Linked DNA regions of Homo sapiens: regions 1, 3 and 4 are each linked to region 2. Evidence: fine-mapped expression QTL. A gene starts in region 2. Each other region holds a variant in brackets. All regions are shown on one strand. Distances are from middle to middle. Region 1 holds the start of LOC105374406 (a long non-coding RNA gene). Region 2 holds the start of RELL1 (RELT like 1). Region 3 overlaps RELL1 (RELT like 1). Region 4 overlaps RELL1 (RELT like 1).

Region 1 (5,268 bases), 75 kb after region 2:
TTTGAATACTAGGCTGGGCACAGTGGCTCATGCCTGTAATCCTAGCATTTTGGGAGGCTGAGACAGATGGATCCCTTGAACCGAGGAGTTCAAGACCAGCCTGGGCAACATGGCAAAACCTCCTCTCTACAAAAGATACAAAAATTAGCCAGGTGTAGTGGTGTGTGTCTGTAGTCCCAGCTACTTGGGGGGCTGGGGTAGGAGGATCACATGAACCCGGGAGGTCGAGGTTGCAGTCAACCGAAATTGCACCACTGCACTCCAGCACGGGTAACAGAGTGAGACCCTGTCTCAAAAAAATAATAATAATAATAAATAAATAAATAATATGTTTGAATCCTGACTGTAATCATTAGCCAAGAAATCTTTATGAAACTCAGTTTTCTAATCTGTAAAATAGGAGTAACATGCCTACCTAAAACAGTTACAAAGTCTAAATAAGTTAATACATGCAAAGCACTTAGAAGAGTGCCTAGCATCTAGTAAGCCTCAATAAATGTTATCCAATCTTGTAAGTATTATTACTACTATTCATCAGACATTCCCTTGAGTAAGATGGTCCTTTCCACTGCCAATGAAAGAAGGCTAATTTGAAATAACTTTACTCAAAAGTGGAAATAAGAGGATCATCTGGCTGGGAAGTCCAAGTGCAGGGACAGCTTCAGGTATGGCTAGATCTAGGATTAAAACAATGGCATTAAGGCCCTCTCTTCTCCATTGCTCAGCTCTGCTTTTTCTCCAGTGGTGGGTAACGCAGCCTCTCTCCACAAGGTGGGCAAATTGTCCACTGGCAGTTAGGTGACACCCTGAGCCTCAAGCACTATTATCCACAATTTCAGAGAAAGAGGCCCTGTCTTCTCCAGCAGACATGCATCATTATTCAAGGGTGACTCCAAGGGGTCTTCTTGGGTCCTTGCCCACGCCTGAGCAAATTGCTGTGCTCAGAGATGGAGTACTAAGATCAGCTAGTGTGGGGCCCAAGGTTACTCCTGAGGCAGAGGTGTAAGAGTTACTCCAGGAGCTCATGGAGTGGGGGAGGAGAACAGTTACCAAAAGGAGTCATGTGGACAAAGACATGTCTGCTCTCTCAGGACTGAACATCCTGCTTCAGTTTGTTCCACATCCATTTATGTATCATTTGTATTTGATCATATGTATCACCTGATAGTTACCATTTTTTGATCAGTTACTGTATGTCAGGAACTACTCTAGGAGCTGTACATAAAAGCTAAATGTAATAATAGCTAAACCTGAATGAATATTTGATACATGCCAGATTCTAAAATATGTATTCTAAACGTATTCTTATTTAATCTCCCCAATAACACCATGAGGTAAACACTATTATCATCCCCAGTTGAGAACACTGAGGTTCAGAGGACTTAGGAACGTGCCCAAAGCCATACCTCTGAGTGACAGAGCCAGAATTTGGACCTAAGGGAATCTGACCACAGGGCCGTTGTTCTTCATGTTCTGACCATTTTACTCTCATAAAAATCCCATGAGGTAATGTCTTATTAAAACCACTGTATTACAGGCAATGAGATAAGACTCAAAGAGGTTAAGCAAATTACTCAAGGTCATGTTCAGGCACTATGCTATGCAATTGTGAGCCAGAGATGGAGACATAGCCCCTGACAAGGCTGTTGTGTGTGGTTGCCCAGCTTGAGCACTGCACAAAATTGCCTCATCCATTGCAGAGGGCAAAGGAGGATGAGGCTTGAAATTTAGCCCAAGTTCTGCTCATAAACCTTGGCCCTGACCCTGGCTACATTGCACAAATTCTACAAGCCAAGATGTGTCTATGAAGCTGACGCTAACCAGAGGCGGAAGAGCATTACAAATTGAGTGAAGCTCCTAGTTGGGTTAACGGCAGCCCTGGCCCCAGGATCTCAAAAGCAGCCTGAAAAGCAGATGATGACAATGGAACATGGTAAGTACTGAGCAAGAGACTTCCCCAGAGAGCTAAGTGACCCAGGACAGGGGCATGTGGCTGCTCACCCTGCCACATCCAGACTTAAACAGGTCCAGTGGGCCACCTAGTCTGGTCACACGACACTCAGGGCTGCCAAACAGAAGGCTCCCCACATGAATGGGAGTACTGGGCCCATTCAGAGCCTGCTCTCTGAATTCACCCTGAGCAGAGCAAACCTAAGTGGACATTCTAGCAGCCTTAGCCTTCTAGACAGGACAATTGCAATCCCAAGACAATTGTAAAATGTAAGATACATGTTCAAGAGTGTGGGGACAGATAGCTACTCATTAATTTTTGTTTTGTTTGTGAGACAGATTCTCACTCTGTCACCCAGGCTGGAGTGCAGTGGCGCTATCTCAGCTCACTGCAACCTCCACCTTCTGCGTTAAAGCAATTCTCCTGCCTCAGCCTCTCAAGTAGCTGGAATTACAGGTGCGGGCCTGGCTAATTTTTGCATTTCTAGTAGAGACAGGGTTTTGCCATGTTGCCAGGCTGGAACTCCTGATCTCAGGTGATCCGCCCTCCTTGGCCTCCCAAAGTGTTGGGATTACAGGTGTGAGCCACTGCGCCCAGCCATTCATTTGGATATAGAAAGATAGAGTTTGCTAAAAACACTGGAGGGAACTGCTAGGTGCCTATCCCATAATCATTCCCCTTATTCCTTGCTATCAGAGCCCTAATGTTCTGTAATATTGGGCACCCACATGTTACACAGATTTCTTCCTGGCTCTAGGAAGTGGAAGTGGGGAGTAAATCTTGATTAATCTAAGCTGACTATCATAATTTGGGTTCCTTCTCAAGTAAAGTCAAATACAAAGAGTTGCTTCAAGTAGTTTATTTGGGAGGTGATCCCAGGAAACTGCCTGAAAACACAGCTTCAGAGATGAAAGAAAATGTCCATAAAGCATCAAGCACAAAGCCCTGATCACAGCAGGGAAGGATGTATGTCTAATTATTACCTTGAGATAGTTCCCTCCTGGTTTGGCATAGAGGTGTCTGGGGCTGGGTAGGATTTGTCACATGTGTGGCAGAATTAATGGTATCCTGATGTCTAATCACGTGATGGTGGGTTCATTTTCAACATTTGTAGGATATGCAGCCCCTGGGGC[G/A]AACCTGAGTGTTTGAAATGCATGGCAACAATGTTTAATTCATGGCAACAATGAATCAGTGCTCTAAGGAAGAAAGAAGTGAATGGCAAGATTGCACTTGCCCTGTAAGTGATGGGGCAATCCTCTCTTTCAGGGAGCGAGGGTTGGGGAGTGGGGGAAAGGCATGAGATTCTACTCTGTTGAGTTGTCTCACTGTGCTTAATGAAACTTTTAAAATATAATACATCTCTGGAAAAGGGTGGGAGAAAATGAGAATGAACTCCTGTGGAGCACTGAAAATCCACCTCATAGTGAGGAATTACTCTACCACAATCTTTTCTTACTTTCTCTCATGTTTCACTTAAGCACAGGACTGCCAGCCAGAAACTACATTTCCCAGCATCCCTTGCAGCTTGGTATGGCCATGTGACCACATTCTCATTAATACAGGGTGAGTGTGCCACATCCAACTCTTTTGTTCAAAAGAAATTGCTTTTCCACTTTCTGGAAGCTTTTGATGTAGTTTTGAGCATACAGAAGAGGGCTGGTTTATTCTAAGTATTGGGAACCCCTTCCTAAGGTCAAACTCTGAGGTTTAGGATGTCAAAGCATAGGCTTATCAAAAAAGCTTCTGATCACACACACACACACACACCGTTAATGCAACATTGACTTCCTCTAACAAGGCAAGTAGGGAGAGAGACGATAGCGGGAGAGATCTGGCTGGTCAGTCTTTCTCTGCCTCCTTTGCTGCTGACCCCAGGCAGTGTGTCTATGACCTCAGCTAGCAAGATTATTTTCTCTTGTCCATAGAAGGAGGTTGGACTCTCCCCCATACTGCATGTCAAAAACTGTAAAAGCCAGGTCAGCATTCTTCAAAAAGATTTATGAGATCAATGCTCCGTGCTCAGTAACAGTAGAGCAGAGCAGTCTGGACTTCTATGCAAAACCTTTCCTTAGAGAACTGGGGGTTACAGCAGCAAGCAGAACTGGGGGTTACAGTATTAGCTTAGATACACATTGGTGCCTCCACAGGCTTTCTTTCCAATGCAGACAACTTGTTTACACTGCTTGCTTTTTGAGTATAAACATTAAAAAAACTTTTCTTTGTTTCTTTTTTTTTTTTTTTGAGACAGGATCACAGGATCTCAGGATCTCACTCTGTCACCCAGGTTGGAGTGCACTGATGTGATCTCAGCTCACTGCAACCTCTGCCTCCCAGGCTCAAGTGATCCTCCTACCTCAGCCTCCAGAGTAGGTGGGACTACAGGTGCATGCCACCCTGCCTGGCTAATTTTTGTATTTTTTGTAGAGACAGGGTTTTGCCATGTTGCCCAGGCTGGTCTCGAACTCCTGAGCTCAGGTGATCCACCCACCTTGGTCTCCCAAAGTGCTAGGATTACAGTCATGAGCCACTGCACCCAGCCTAAAAACTTTTCTAAAAGACAACATATTCAAAAATAAATTTCATGGGAACATTTTAATGACATTTCTTAAGTTAACATGTTTCTGATTTGTCAAAGTGAAGTGTAAACACTGTCCAAATGTAAACACTTTCGAAGTGTAAACACTCTCAAAGTGTGTTGGAGAATACAGATCCTCTTATGTGGAAAGGAGTAGTGAGGCGGCCTTTAAACACTTACACAAAACACAAGCATTGCAAAGACATACTCTATGCGATAGAGAGGCAACAGGATCCTGAATGAACAGGTGTAGCCAAGGTGCTCTGCCAACGTGGACTTCCTGGACTGTGATTGGAAAGAGCAAAGGCTTCTTTCTTTCTTAAGCCACTGCATTTTTAAATTTCTTTCTTATAGCTGTCTAACCTTTATCCTGACAAATACACTGAGTAAAACAGAGCGAGTAGACAATCAACATTTGCTGAATAAATGAATAAATGTATAAGCAATGTGTTAGTGAATACAAATTTCCTCATACATCTAGGACAATGTAGCATCCTATATTGTTTTATTTGTTTCTGGGACAGTGTCTCCAAAGATAGCTCCAACCTGAACAGGGTCACACTGAGTCACATTGTGCCTGGGTAGGAGTGCCAGCTGCAGAGGGGGGTGATGGGTCCACCTCTGTGTCATGCAACTGCTAGTGTGACACTGAGAAATTAGGGTAGGAACTCTGGCCTCCAGGTGTTCTAAGAAATACAGACAGCAGCATCACCTACTACCCCCATCACAAATGTTTATGTGT
Region 2 (5,268 bases):
CAAGGTACAAACATTAACACCATCTTTGGTTGCAAGGGGATCAGATGTTGGCTGGTCAGAGCATCTTCTCTTTACACACGCCTCAAGATACTGGCAAATTTGTGCTCTGTATCCTTTCCTTTTTAGACACCTGTTTCTTCTTCCGCATTAATTTTCATCAAAAAAAAAAAAAGGCTGTCATGCAATTAGATGAGAGCTTTCATCAGTCACATTCTAGTCCTGAGACCTGGGTGTTGCTCAGAGGTCAAACCAAACACACACCCACTCTAGGGATGGATTTCTCCTGCTGATGATGGCTAATTACATGCATCATGTGCTGAATTTTTAATAATTTTACTCCCAGATTAAACTCTTCCCCAGATTCTGTTGCAACTGACTCTAACCCTCTAATGAATGTCTCCAACCTCACATCCAAGTGGAACCTGATTATGCACCTATGTGTCCCAGCAATCAAACGCAGGATGAAAATCAAAATGAACCAGCAGGGCATGGTGGCTCATGCCTGTAATACCAGCACTTTGGGAGGCCGAGGCAGGAGGATCACTTGAGGTCGGGAGTTCGAGACCAGCCTGGCCAATATGGCAAAACCCCATCTCTACTAAAAATACAAAAATTAGCCGGGCATGGTGGCACATGCCTGTAATCCCAGCTGCTCAGAAGGCTGAGGCAGGAGAATCACTTGAACCAGAGAGCTGGAGGTTGCAGTGAGCCGAGGTTGTGCCACTGCACTCCAGTCTGGGTGACAAAATGAGCCCCTGTATCAAAATAAGGAAAAGAAAAAAAAAATTGTCCCATCCAGTAAAACATGTCACTAGCTGCCATTTCCCCAGGTGGATGGCTAACGGAAATACGGGCCTGCTAAAAAGACTCAGGAGACAATATTATCCATCTCCTTCCCTTCCAACCTGCTCTGGTTTCTATGAAAAAGTGAAGGCCAAACTGCTAAGTCAGTGTAAAAGTTGTAAGCGACTGAAATGTTCTCAGGAGGAAGAGTTTATGGATGTTTATGGAGGAGACAGTCACTGTTGAAAGGCTTCCAGTTGCTTATTATTTGGGCCTGAGGAGGAACCACCGCTGAAATCAAGCTTGGAAGAGCTTGCTGACGTCAGATTCCCAGCTGTAGTAACCCCAAATGGCCAAGTAAGTATGTTTTTTTTTTAACTGCAGCTGTTAGGTGGCAATTAAGAGGGGAAGCGGTGGTAAGGAATCCCTAGTGTCTGTAATTATAAAAGCAAGGATGTGACATAGGACTTCCATAAAACTTACACCTCCTCTTAAGATTGATTTCAATTAAAAACTGCTTCATCGTTGGTGACACTTTAGCATCTCTGTTGGTGGCTTCCTGCCCTGACCACACAAGGTTCCTTTCGTGACGACAGGAATCAACAAAAAGAAGAAAAAAATGTAAGTTTACCAACGCGCCTTCCCTTTTTCCGAGCCTGATTTATACAGGATATATGGGAAGAAATGTGGACTCCTTGACCTGTTACAAGAATCCATCAACCACCCAAATAAATGGAAACGTGGAAAGAGATTCAAAGTCCTCCAGGTTTTAGGATATTTTAAGGTATTTAAAAGGGAGAAGGAGGCGCCGACAGCGCACCCGGTGCTCTGTGTCACGATCTTCCGCTCGCGGCGCCTTTGAGGACAAGGGCGGCGGGAAACGGGTCCGCGGGGTTCCGAGGCGAGCGGCCGTGGAGGAAGCGCCCCCGAAGAAGGCCTGGTCCCTACGCCCCGCACTGCCCAGCGCTGGGGAACACAGATCCTCGGAGGAGGCCCCAGGGAGGGAAGGCGGGAGCGGGGCCCGCGGGAGGGGAGGGACGGGAGCCGTTGCCACGCACCGCGCCCTGCCCGGACCGCCGCGGGACAGCCAGTTGTTCAGTGCCGGGATCCCGCGGCTGTGCCAGAAAGCAGGACGCCGCGGGGCTGCCGTCCCGACCCCTCGCTTCCTTCCGCGCTCCCGGGACCGGGCTCAGCACCCGGCGCCCCGGCTACGACCGGACACTCACCCGGAGCCACCAGCGGCGAACTCACGGCGCCTCCCACGAAGACAGCAGCGGCTAGGACGGCGGACCCCGGGAGTGCCCGCGGAGCCATCGCCGCGTCGCTTCGCCCTCCTCCCCCAGGGCGCCGCGTCCCGCGCTCGGGAAGGCAGAGCCGCTCCGGAGCCGGCGGGCTGATCGAGTGGCTGGGCTGGGCCCCAGGGAGCGGCGAACCCCGCCCCGCCATTGCCCCGCCCCACGCCACACCCACCTCGGCTCGGTCCCGCCTCTCCCCGCGCGCCCCGGGCTCCACCTAAGCCGGCACGAGGTCCACTCATGGCTCCGCCCCCGACTCCCCGCCCACCTCAGCCTGATCCCGCCTCTCCCTGCCATTCCCGCTTCCTTTCCAAACCCCGCAGCAGCCTCAGCGGCGTAGCTAGGCCATGGACACGCCCTCTTTCTCCACCCACCTCAGCTTGGCCCCGCCTCTCCCTACCGAGCCCCGGACTCCACCTAAGAAGGCACGTGGCCCATCCATGGCCCCGCCCTTTTCCCCACCCACAGCTCAGCCCGACCCCTCCTCTCCCGCTTCCTTTCCAAACCCAGCAGCAGCCTTGGCGGCGCAGTTAGGCTATAGCCCCGCCCTTGCGCCCTGCCCACCGTGGCCCGGCCGTGCCTCTACTTGCCAGGCCCGCTTCCTTTCCAAGCCGGGCCGGGATTACGCGGGAGCCCGGGGCGGGGGGAGGGTCGCCCGGGTGCAACCTCCCTCGGTCGCTGGGACTAGGCGGGCGTGGGAAGAGAAAGAGGGAGCGCGCCCCGAGAAGCACTGGACAGTCAGAAGCGGCCAGCACTGGAGTGAGCACAGGCTTTTTTCGCTGTTGGCATGTCTATCCACTAGCATTCCCCTCGGTTGCAGATCTAGGGAGTGATGCTGTGCTGGATGTCACGTTCTGTTGTTTGGAAATTAGCAGAAAAGATAACTTAAATTTCTTCCTCTGTTTGTTTGCATTTAAGCTGCTCCTATTGGGGAAAATACCTCTATGCATTTTCAGGAACAACTTGCCTTTTTTTTTTAATCGTGTGCTTGTATTGCACCTTGCGCATACTCCCGCAAAGTAGGTCTTTCAATGCCCAGACGCTTATTATCTCCTCACATCCTCACATCAGCTCTGCGAGGTGACTATTAGAGGCCAGGGAGTAAACCCACGATGTCTGGGCCACCATGATAAATTGTAATTATCTCATTGTCATTGTGTTTGCTCGCTGCTGTGCCCTCAGCGCCTGGATGGAGGACAGACAGCACACGCTAAGAGGTCAGAAGTGTTTTCTGAAGTTGAATCATCTTCACAAGCATTAATAGGACTCAGAGGCTCTCTCTGAATAGTTCCTTTTTACTGCCCTGTAGAGACTGTTGTTACTGGGCCATCAAGCATTTGCTTGAAGGAAATTAGGGCAGGACTTGAGCAAATACTCAACACCAGCAAGAAGAGGGGGTGCATGGAGGCTGTGGGTTTTCACAGGATGGGTCTCATCCTTGAGGTGACTGATAACCTCTAGTTTTCAGAGGACTATTTATTCTCTCACCGAGTCCTCCACGCAGTCTGCTGGACTATTATTACAAACATTGCATTGATGTGGGAATTGCCAGTGACAGAAGCTCAGGCCACTACAGTACAGATGGCTGAGGCTGAAGGATGGAGCCCCTGCCCTTTGAAGCCCAAGGAGGGCACTGCGCGTCCTGCGCTCAGTTGGCAGCGCATCCTACAGTCTGGCAGTCTTAGCAGGCAGCCTTTGCTAGTTTTATATCAACATAAACATTGAGAATGTGTGCGGAGGAAAGCGATCCATGTGGATTTCTAACTAAAACAGGAGAGAATCCCGGACCTAGAAATTAAACTATAAATTAGAAGTTGTAGCCAGAACCAGCTATAAAATTTGCAGGGCACAATGCAAAATGAAAAGGCAGGGCCTTCTGTTCAAAAATCGTTAAGAATTTCAAGATGGCAACAACACAACATTAAATCGATTGTGGAGCCCTCCTAAACACACAGTTGCACAGGTCACACACTTATAAAGCCAGCTCTGGTTTTGTAAGTTAGAATGTAACAAAATGCTTGAATCAAGAAATCTAATCAAAATGTAAAATGTCATTTCAAAATTGAATCATGTTTCACTCTTTTCCCACAGATTGGACTTAGTATTAAAAAGATGGGATCGTTTTTGGCTGGGCGCAGTAGCTCAAGCCTGTAATCCCAGCACTTTGGGAGGCCGAAGCAGGCAGATCACGAGGTCAGGAGATCGTAGACCATCCTGGCTAACACGGTGAAACCCCATCTGTACTAAAAATACAAAAAAGTAGCCAGGCGTGGTGGCGGGCGCCTGTAGTCCCAGCTACTCGGGAGGCTGAGGCAGGAGAATGGCGTGAACCCGGGAGGCGGAACTTGCAGTGAGCCGAGATTGTGCCACTGCACTGCAGCCTGGGCAACAGAGCGAGACTCCGTCTCAAAAGAAAAAAAGAAAAAAAAAAAAGAAAGACGGGATCATTTTTAACAACACATTTGAATTGTATATCTGTTATGGCTCTTCAAATATAAAAATCTAGTACTTAAGCCTTACCCATTATCTACCAGGCCCTTTGTTTTACAGATGAGAGATGGTTAAGTGATCTGCCTGACATATCTACTATGAGCCAGGGTTGAAACCCAGGGCTCTGAAATTTCTCTTCCTAAACTTTCCATAACACCTGCTTGACACACTCTCTATAAATGTCTTACTTTCACGTACCCCGTATACATGCATTTGTATGTCTTGTTAAAGGAATGAAGGAAGGGTAGGAGGAAGAGAGGGGGAGGGACGGAGGAAAGTGAAGAAGGGAAGGAGAGAGGAAAGAAAGAAAATCAAGCTTAAATTATTTTCCATATCCTTAACCCTACAGATTTATTCATACAATTTAAATAGCTTCTACATATGTATATCTAAAAATCCACTGTTTTATTTTAAAAGTAAGAACCCCAATGTAATGGAACTTCTATTCTCTATTATGAAGGGAATGTCATATTTCTTCTGAGGACATAAAATGGAAATCTTAAAACTAAGTTGTATTTCCATTTTTTCAGAAACAAAAGTAGAGTTTTAATAATTCTTAAGAATAACTGTCATTAATTAAAAACAATAATCCTCATTCTGCCCTTAGATTTAGCCCAATCCTATGGTGGGAACTCTTTTTGTATTCTTTCATCAATTCCTCACAATGATTTTATATTTAGGGAATCATTGTTAACACTCC
Region 3 (5,268 bases), 23 kb before region 2:
AATTGCCCACAATAATAAAAGAAGAGAAACCAAAGCAAATTCTACAAAATAAAATCATCCCCAAATTATTCCTATTTGGTTACAGAGATAACTAAAGTCACAGTCTCTAAGACCATCTACCCACAGTGGCAATCATAAAGACACAGCATTTGCCCAAGCTCAAGAATATGTTGTAGAGAGAACAAATGGGCTTAAACAGAATTGGAGAACACTGTAAGTCAGTATATAAATAAGTGCTGAACTCTGTAGTGAAACTTGAGGCAGCTACCAGCTTCCAGACAATTCCTAGACAAACAGCTGCTACAACCCCACCTTTCCCCGAAAAGGCAGCTATGACTGGGCAGGGAGGGGACACCCAGATGGCACCCACCTGCCAAAGTCCACCCACCCATGAAACAAAACCCCACCCAACGCCAGCTGCATACAGTCCCTCAATTACTTTTATTTTGTTAAAATTCCTGAAATGCTACCATGAGTCATGAGCCCTGGAGTCTGATTCTGGGTTGCAAAGACCACTCTGGGAACAGATGGAAGCTCAGACAACTTCCCCAATAAAACGTGCAGAAGTCAGCAAAGCCTAGCTATAAATCCTTATTTTCAGATGCATTTGGCTAATGGATGCCTTGAAAAATTATCATTACTAATGATAATTATCATTTTTAATGGGAAAATGCATTTCAACTTACAATCTACTTACTCAAAAGTAGTATTTGGGGCATAACCTATCCTTAAGCTGGGGCTTTCTTCTTAAATACCACATAGATTGAGAAGGGAAGTAACAAAGATGATCCAGAAAGAAAAAGGACTTTATGCTGAGCCTCAACAGAATAACTGAATTTGGCTGGACAAAAAGGGAACAGGACACTCTTGACAGGCAGGAGGCTGGGGCACTCAGAGCATTCCTGAACCCCGGGTTGCTACCAGAACAAAGGACTGAAACTTGAGTGATGTCAATATAAAGAAACATCTTAAAAAAAAAAAAAAAGATGAAATCTAAATATTACCATCCCTGGCTTCAATTTGAACTGAAGAGAGAAAAATAACTTTGCAGAGTCAGATAAAGTCCCTAGCCTACTCCACACTGTCTCGGGTTTACCATTTGAAGTTATTTCTTAAAGCCACAGAACTCCAACACAGATGACAGCTACAGCCACCCCCATCCCCCCATCTTCCCCCACCTCCCACCTCGCCCAAAGCTCCGTCTTGGGAGGAAATTAACTCTAGGATCCCGGTGTCTTGAGAGGCCAAGGACCTCAACTTCTGGACTCTTCCAGAGTATCTCAAACAATGGTTTGCATTCAGGATACAACAGAAGGCTCATCTGACCTGGCCTCACCCCAGACTGGAGCAAGGTCAGCTTGCCAGTTATTTGCTTTGGGATACAGGCCAGGAAGCCACCAACTGTGCCTCTAAGACAGAAGACTGAGGAGATTCCCACAGACCCTCACTGATGGCTGCACACATCAGTGGGGTCCTCAGAGAGGGGCGTGAGGAAAAGCAATACCCGTGGGGCTCAAGGACTGGGAGGGCTCCCTGCTGACTCTCTCCCCATCTTCTTTTCCTGTTCTCCAGCCCCTCCCTCCCTCTTTCGCTGCCCCTCCTCCTTTTGCTATTTTTGGTGCTGTCCATTTGGGGACTTTTCCAAAGTCTTTATTTACTGATAGCACCGTCTGTCTCCTGGGAAGGGGCTGGGTGGCTGCACAACAGGAATGGAGAGAGCCTCTGACTAATGGCTCTTGCGAACCTTTAAAATTACACATTATGTCCACTCAAGAAAGAAATGGAATTCTGAAGAAGTCATTTGTTTGAAGTGACCTTAAAGCAACAGGGCTTCAGAAATCTAATATTTGCTTCAGATTATTTCTGAAAGGTGGTACGTCATAAAGAATGAGTTGCTACTTTAATTGTCAATCGCAGCATTCACACGGGGTGTTAGTGGTGTCAGGCAGTGTTCTGGATGCTTCCTGGGCAATCTCATTCTTCCCTCGCAGCATCTGTAAGGAAGCATCTCTCATTACCCCCATTCGCAGATGAGGAAAATGAGGCACA[C/T]GGGTTCAATAACAAGCCTCGGTGTGTAGGAGGACAGGATCCAACCCAGACAATGGAATCCCGGGGCCCACACTCTTAGCCATGTTGCTTAACAGTGTCTGTAAGTGGCGGTGGCCTTGGGTTTTATCTAGTGACACATGCATTTAGGTGGCTTTGTTAAACTGTCACCAATGAACCACACAGCTGGGCTGCATACAGGTCAACATTCACCCACCCAAGGCCCTTAAACACTAAGAAGCTGCCTCTCTCCAATGACCCTATGATATACGATTAACACTGGAACTTGCACATATCTTCTTCTGGTGTAAAAATCATCTTCATAAAAAAAAGACTGAAGTCAGCTGTAGGTGAATGAAATTTGTAGTGGCTTCATTTTTTAAAAACCTTCATAGCACAAAATTTCCCAATATTAATTTTAACTGCAAAAAACAAAAGATCGACCGGGCGCAGTGGCTCATGCCTGTAATCCCAGCACTTTGGGAGGCCGAGGCAGGTGGATCACAAGGTCAAGAGATCAAGACCATCCTGGCCAACATGGTGAAACCCCGTCTCTACTAAAAATACAAAAATTAGCTGGGCATGGTGGCACGTGCCTGTAGTCCCAGCTGCTTGGGAGGCTGGGGCAGGAGAATTGCTTGAACCCGGGTTGAACCTGGGAGGCAGGGCTTGCAGTGAGCTGAGATCCCATCACTGTGACAGAGTGAGACTCCATCTCAAAAAAAAAAAAAAATCACTCATGTATAACTACTTCATCTCCCTCTATAACTATCATAAAGGTAAAAGTAAAAGACCTTTCTCTAGCTATTGAAAAGCACCTTATTCACAGATGCATGTGTTCACATTATTGCTCAAAAACTGTTATTCAGTGGTTGCCACAAACATAATTTGTACTAGCAATGTTAATTACATGGCATCTAAAAATCTTTCAGAAAAAATATTTAAAAAGAAAGGAGAGGAATAAAGAAAATTTTCAATCATACACATGAGATAGGGACACACAGTACAAGATATAAAAGTTCCCACCCAAATAACACACTTTTCAATGCACTTTCACATTCATTCTTTTATTTGAAATCCCTAATCCCAAGAAGTTAGGTAATATCATCATTCTGTAAATAAATCAGTGGCCTACATGATATCACTGGGTCGAGGCAGAGAAATGAGCCAAGCAGAAGAACCAAAGCTTAGGAGGACATTTTCCCCACCCACCTCACTACAACAGCGCACCACTCAGACATACCACGGTCAAAGGCAGGAATCCCAGCAGGACACAGAACTCGCCGGAAAACCCTGACTGAAGTCAAACACCTCTTTCCCTAAGTGGAGGTGGGGAAGTGAAGGTTTGTACCTCTAATCCCTAACACAGTTCCTGCAACACAGTAGGAGTGCCTGAAACATCTGCTGCAGCAATGTTATATGTGAAAGCAAATTCTCTCATTGCAGAAGGGCTCCTGGGTAATCAATCAAGTCCCCAAGTTCACAGTAACTTTATAAGCAGTTTTGTTAAGATCCTATTTGGTAGAACAGAATATCCAGTGTACTTACACCCCATTTGCCAAATGCCAACAGTTTTTACAAACATAAATAAGTAGATTCTTTTCAGAGCTGGACAACTGATACACCCCACTGCTTCACCCCCTTGTTGGGTAAGTCCTTTCTGAAGGATGTAAATATACCAGCATGCTCCTGGGTTCATCGAAATCAACAGAAGTTTCCAGTTTGCAAAGATCCAAAAGAAAGGCTATAAATAGCAGCACATTCCTAAACCCAGCTTGGGGAACTAGCTCTCAACTGGATTTTCACAGGACTCCAATTCATCCCCAACTGCCAGATCCATAAGGGGACGCTAAATCCGAGCTTACACAACCTCACCAAAGGCTACTGCCCAATTTCCACGTGGCTGCGAGTCCTAACAGAACTGTTCATGTATATTCCTTGCAAGAGGCCAACCAAGAACTAGGTTAGAAATTATTTAAACTATGGGAGGAAGTCTAAGTAGCAAGGGCCAGAAAAAAACCATCAAATAGGAGGAAACACGCCATCTCAGCCTGTCTCCAGTAGCAACGGGAAGAAATGGGGTCAAAGGGGTGCTCCTTTAGGAAATCAGTGAATTCCCTGAAGCTTACAGAGAGCTGGTGCAGGAAACCAGTCCTTGGGGAGCTAGATCCCTGGTTTCTGGGCACAACTGGCACCTGTCAGGGTTAGAAGTCCAGCCAAGTCATTTCTACCCTGCAGAATAGGACATAAACTAATCACATGGGGAAAAAATGGGTGGTGCTGAGCTGGCTGGAGGGAAGCAAGGGCGTCAGAAAGGAAGACTGGCCCAGCACCCGACCAGGCAGAGGGAGAAAGAGAGATGGTGACTGATGCCCCTGTGGAGTGTTGGGGGTTTATGATTTCCAGATCCAGGGCCTCTAGGATGCTCAACTACTTTACCACCAACTGCTAACAGCCACTAACCTTTACTGGAATTTTTACTTACATTATCATTTCTTATCTCTACAACTCTGAGATAGGTGTTAATATTAAACCCATCTTAGAAATGGAGATGATCAAGAACAAAGTATTGAAGCTGAAGTCACTCATCTGGGAAATGGCTGGGCCAACATTTGAACCAAGGTCTGTTGCACGCAGGGCCAACTCTGAAGCAAGACTACTCCCTATGAAGCATGGAAGCAAAAGCAGAAACTGGCTTTTTTCTTGGCTGCACTGTGTTCAATTTGTTTCCTAGCTGTGAAGCCCCAGGCAAGGTCAATTAGCATCTCTGTGCCTCAGTTTCCTCATCCATAAAATAATAATAGTTTCTAAGCCTTATATGAGATTACTAGGGTTTATCCAAGTTAAGACTTGATAAATGCTAGCCATTATTGCTGTGATTATTATTATCTGTGGTAATAAGAGCAAAGCAGTTGCTATCCTCACCAAGCTCACAGCTCAGCTGGGGATATAAAATCAAACATCCAGAAAAGGACAAGGAATCACATGAGCTGGGCTGGAAGGGGCAGTGTTAAATGTGGGGTGCAGAAAAGATAAGCCCTGGGGGTGAGTGAGCAGCGACCACACAGCACTGCTCAGGTGGTACCACAAGGCCAGGCAGGCACCCACATCCCCACATGCAAGCCAGTGTTTCTCTTCCTTCCAGGAACAGGAAGCAGATAATGACTAAACAGAGAACTACAAAAGTCCTAAACGAAGGGTTTTCCAATTAGTCACAGGTTA
Region 4 (5,268 bases), 70 kb before region 2:
AAGGAAAAAATGAGAGGGAATTTTCCAGGCAAAACCTTAAACTAGGCCATTATCTAGAAAACAGGTATGGTATTCCACTGTTTTTATGTCTCCTCTTTATGTGCTCCCTTAGAACTAGACATTTTTGCATCAAGGAAAATAACAACGTCAAAGGTGGGGGATGTCAGGCCTAGAAACTAATGTTTCATCACAGTAACAGTTTTCACTGCAACCTAGAAACACTCCTCATTTTGAGTGTTTTGCACAGATTTGACCGGCTTTAAGAACTGGGCATGCAAGAATACAGGCTAAGCTAAAAAGGAGGGGCCTGGATTCAAATCCAGACCCCTACTCCCAGCCGTGGAACCGTGGCTGTTTCTGTAGCATTCTCTCCTAGGGTTACTGGGGATTTGACATGAGATGATCCTATGCACAACGCTTAATACGAGGAAAAGCAATCAGTATGCTCCGAAAGGTTAACTATTCTGGTCATTACCATCATCCAATTCTCTGCTCTCAACAATCACATTAGCTTTCTTCAACAGCTGCCTTCTGCAGCTGATAAAAACTGCACTATCTGTAATATCTTTGAGAGAGGAAGTAAAAAATACAAATCACTGCTTAAAGTCCTCACTGCTAATACCAGAAACTAAGCAGAAAAGGGAAAGCTAATCTTATTAAAACCCTTGCAGTTCTGGTCTCTAATTACAAACACACATTTATTAGAAGGTAGCACATTACTGGCACAACACTATGACCTTCCAGGTATTTCTTTAACCCAGAACAATAATAAAAGTGTTACAAGGTGCCTTCCATATTGTCCTGCAGCAGTCAGAAATCATGTGTGGGTGGGCACAGAGACACCAGAAAGGCTAACAGGAGTGGGTGAGAGAGGAAACACCCACCCACTCACTGTTCCCAGTTGCCATCACATGGGACCACACCACACTGAGCAAGCCTGGCCTATCTCTCTTCGGGAGAAATTTTGTGATGACAGTTTACACAAGTGAGTACTCAAGCTGGAAAAAATTAAGCGAAGTTCCATTACATGGAAAACAGAATTCAGAAATCCCAAAGTGTAACCATTTTGCTTATAAAACAAGACTGATGGATAAAAATTAAGAACCGCCCAGAAGATTTATCTGGAACAAAGGAAGAGGTTGTCTTTTTCTTTAGAGTTTATTGCTTATGACATAATCTTATAAAGATAAAGCCATAATCCTCTCATTATACTATGGGTCCACGGAAGCTGCCATATGTCTCTGATTAGGATATACATACAAATATCTATGCCTTGTTAAAAAGGATTCTCTAGAAAAAAAAAAGAAATTGATCCCTTTAAAAATTAGAAACATGTTATAAGAAACTAGGAGCCTAAGCGGATTAATGAACAGTAAATGCTAAAATCTCTAAGTGTAGGATGTTAAGGAAGAAAAAGTCTATCTGATTAATAATAACAGCACTGGCATTTGCAGAGCACTTTCTCTGTGCCAGGTACTGTCATGCTAAGCACTCTAGGGTCATTAACTCAATCTTCCCGATGACTCCATAAGTCAATGATTCCTATTTTCATAGGAGGAAACTGAGGCTTCCAGGTTCAATAATTTACCAAAGGCCACACAATTAGTAACGGGAAAGTAGGAAATCCATCCCAGGCAGTAAGACCTGGAAGACCACAAAGCTACCTCCATGCTGCACTGCTATCCAGTCACCCCGGACACACCCACAGCATCACTGGAATCCTCTGGTACCCTCGCTTCTCTGCTCCCCACCTGTGTGGCAGGCAACAGAAAGGAAATGCAGAAACTAGAAATGCTGCCAGGGTCTCTCTCAGGGGAAATCACTGTGGTTGCATGAACAGTTAAATGATGCTAAAAACCTATACTTTAAAGGGGCCCAGTCCCTGGGAAGATCAAAAGTATACACCTACACAACACTGAATTCTGATCTCATTCTAAGACAAGGCTATGGAACCACACAGTCGGATTAATAATTCTCTTGACCACTTTTAAATAAAATAAATAGAGAACGTTGTTTATAGAGCTACATGACAGCAATATTAACACTGAAGTCCCGGAGCTACATTTAAGTGATCAATCACTAATAATCTGTGCTCCTTTAAGGCTCACACTTCTTAGTTAGAGATTTATCTTGTTCCAGGCTCTACTGACCATTCTGCAGTTACACGCTTGCAGGTTATGATGGCTGTGCATGTGACACCATGGTCCTGCAATGGTACTGCCTGCGTAGATCGGCATCTTGGCAGATATCGATTAATGGAATCACATCACAGAGTATTCAGTGCTTATAGTCCTTTAAATCTTGCTCTGGTCTAAATTGTGTGTTAAATTTTATAAATTAACACGGATACCTTCTTATTTTAATAAAGGCTCTTGTTTAACAAACCCAATAGATTCATGCTAATCTAGGCTAATCCATGCAATCTTTTAAAATCAGTGTTTCCCAGAATGATCAGCAGAACCTGCTTTAGAATCGGCTTAAATATTACCAAAAACTTCAGATTCCTTGGGCCTCTCCCTGAGACCTACTAAATCAGAGTCTACGGGGTTGCAGTCCAGGACTCTGCTTTCCTATAAGGTGCTTCATTGATTCTAATGCACGTATGAAGGTTTAAGCTTTTAGGTAAGACCC[A/G]GTACTAATGTTTTTCAACTGATTAAAAACAGCAAGAATTAAATCCGCTTCCAAAGGGTAAACCCTGCAAACACAACACTATAAAGTCAGCGGAGGTCAAAAAATACATCTCAGAAATGGGGGCGAAAACAAGTATGACAAAATCACTTAAAGACTGAAATATTAATTAAAAACTTCAGTAACTTGGCCAGGCATGGTAGCTCATGCCTATAATCCCAGCACTTTGGGAGGCCAAGGTGGGCAGATCACTTGAGGTCAGGAGTTCGAGACCAGCCTGGCCAACATGGTGAAACCACGTCTCTACTAAAAATACAAAAATTAGCTGGGCATGATGACGCATGCCTGTAGTCCCAGCTACTTGGGAGGCTGAGGCAATAGAATCGCTTGAACCTGGGAAGCAGAGGCTGCAGTGAGCCGAGATTGCACCACTGTACTCCAGCCTGTGTGACAGAGTGAGACTCCGTCTCAAAACAAAACAAAACAAAAAATCAGTAACTCAATTTTAAAATTACAGAATCTGTTTTTAAATGTATTTCAAAGTAGTTGGGAACTAGAATTCGACTAATTTGCAGAGGGCTCTTGTAATGATGAGATGAATGCCATATTATCACACCTGTTAAGGAATCACTGAGGGCCAACTATGTACAAGATGCCAAGATGCCACCTAAAGTCTCAGCAAAGGATGAGAAGACACCATCCAAAGGCACTGCCCAAGTCCTGAAGGAGCTTAGTGTATGCAGGGAGGAAGCTTAAACAATCAGCTTCGACGCAAGAAAAACTGAGCCATGCTGCATATCATTTTTAAACACAACTGGAATATTTTATAACTTGTTTTTTTCATCTAATAATATACAGTAGATGCTCTGTGTCTGTACATATAACTCTACATCAATCTTTTTTTCTTTTTTTTTAAGAGACAGGGTCTCACTCTGTTGCCCAGGCTGGAGTACAGTGGCACAATCATGGCTTGCTGGAACCTCGAACTCCTGGGCTTAAGTCATGGAGTTCAAGCTACCACTTTATCCTCCCATGTAGCTGGGACTACAGGTGCATGCCACCCTACTCAGCTAATTTTTTATTTTTTTTTATTTATTTATTTTTTTAAGTAGAGACAGGGTCACTATGTTGCCCAGGCTGATCTCAAACTTCTGGCTTCAAGCAGTCCTCCAGCCTCAGCCTCCCGAACTGCTGGGATTACAGGTATGAGCTATCACACCCAGCATCTACTTCAATCTTTGGCATTTGCAGGCCATTATGAAATGCATAAGGCACAATTCATTTACTTAATCTCCCATTGATAGATGTATTTAAAGATGCTTCCAGGTACTTGCTACTATGTAAATAATGCTAAAGTGAACAACTTTGGACATTATCTTTGCATTTATGCATGATATTTATTAATTGGAATAATTTGGTCAAAGAGTACATATTTAAGTTTTTACAGTTCCAGATTGCCACCACAAAGGTCTAGACCATTGTAGCCTCCTGCTTTGGTGTGGGATAATGTCCATCTCCCTGCACCCTCTTGATTTTTGTTTGGTTGGTTGGTCGTTTTTCTTTTCTTTTCTTTTCTTTTCTTTTGAGACGGAGTTTCGCTCTCGTTGCCCAGGCTGGAGTGCAATGGTGTGATCTCGTCTCACTGCAACCTCCGCCTCCCGGGTTCAAGTGATTCTCCTGCCTCAGCATCCCGAGTAGGTGGGATTACAGGCATGCGCCACCACCCCCAGCTATTTTTGTATTTTTAATAGAGATGGGGTTTCTCCATGTTAGTCAGGCTGGTCTTGAATTCCCAACCTCAGGTGATCTACCTGCCTCAGCCTCCCAAAGTGCTGGGATCACAGGCGTGAGCCACTGCACCCACCTCCCTGCACCACATTTTTTTTTTTAGAAGGAGCCTCGCTCTGTCACCCGGGCTGGAGTGCAGTGGCGCAATCTCGGCTCACTGCAACCTCCGCCTCCCAAGTTCGAGCGATTCTCCTGCCTTAGCCTCCCGAGTAGCTGGGACTACAGGCGTGCGGCATCACACCTGGCTAATTTTTGTATTTTTAGTAGAGTCGGGGTTTCACCATATTGGCCAGGGTGGTCTTGAACTCCTGACCTCGTGATCCACCTGCGTCAGCCTCCCAAAGTGCTGGGATTACAGGCGTGAGCCACCGCACCCAGCCCCTGCACCCTTTTAACCAAGGTGACCACATGAACCAGTTTGCCTGGGAGGTCTTGGTTTATATATGTTTACCCAGAATAATTATTCACAGTGTTCCCTTTTATTCTCTGCAGAGTCTCTCTCTGTCACCCAGGCTGGAATGCAGTGGCATGATCCTGACTCACTACAGCCTCCAACTACTGAGCTCAAGAAATCCTTCCACCTCAGCCTCCCAAGTAGCTGGGACTACAGGTGTATGCCACATGCCCAGCTAATTTTTTAATTTTTAATTTGCAGAGACAGGATCTCACTATGTTGCCCAGGCTGGTCTCAAACTCCTGGCCTCGAGCCATCCTCCCACCTCAGCCTCCCAAAGCACTGGGATTACAGGTGTGAGCTACCTCCTCATTTTGGATGTGAGTTATATGGTCATGCTAGTGTTAACATTCATCTTTGTCACCAGAGAAGCAAAAAGTGATCTCAGTTTGGATTTA

The links. PIP is the estimated chance that this variant, and not a neighbour inherited with it, causes the effect.
Region 1: its variant is fine-mapped to the expression of RELL1 in whole blood (TOPMed, PIP above 0.99).
Region 3: its variant is fine-mapped to the expression of RELL1 in caudate (GTEx, PIP above 0.99).
Region 4: its variant is fine-mapped to the expression of RELL1 in whole blood (TOPMed, PIP above 0.99).

Annotation. Positions count from the first base shown.
Region 1 is chr4:37,759,339-37,764,606 of GRCh38, forward strand. It overlaps LOC105374406 (a long non-coding RNA gene), which reads left to right and starts at 1,709. Exons shown (of 3, transcript XR_001741505.2): 1 at 1,709-1,933; 2 at 3,066-3,188; 3 at 3,430-4,487. The variant G/A (reference allele first, on the strand shown) is at 3,085.
Region 2 is chr4:37,684,191-37,689,458 of GRCh38, forward strand. It overlaps RELL1 (RELT like 1), which reads right to left and starts at 2,186. Exons shown (of 7, transcript NM_001085400.2): 1 at 2,010-2,186. The coding sequence starts at 2,097. RefSeq lists silencers at 1,725-2,394, 2,575-2,884.
Region 3 is chr4:37,661,609-37,666,876 of GRCh38, forward strand. All of the region lies in intron 1 of RELL1 (RELT like 1), which reads right to left. Among named protein-coding and RNA genes, the nearest start is that of RELL1, 22 kb to the right of the region's middle. RefSeq lists a silencer at 1,999-2,293 and enhancers at 4,461-5,268, 4,943-5,268. The variant C/T (reference allele first, on the strand shown) is at 2,050.
Region 4 is chr4:37,614,685-37,619,952 of GRCh38, forward strand. All of the region lies in intron 6 of RELL1 (RELT like 1), which reads right to left. Among named protein-coding and RNA genes, the nearest start is that of RELL1, 69 kb to the right of the region's middle. The variant A/G (reference allele first, on the strand shown) is at 2,632.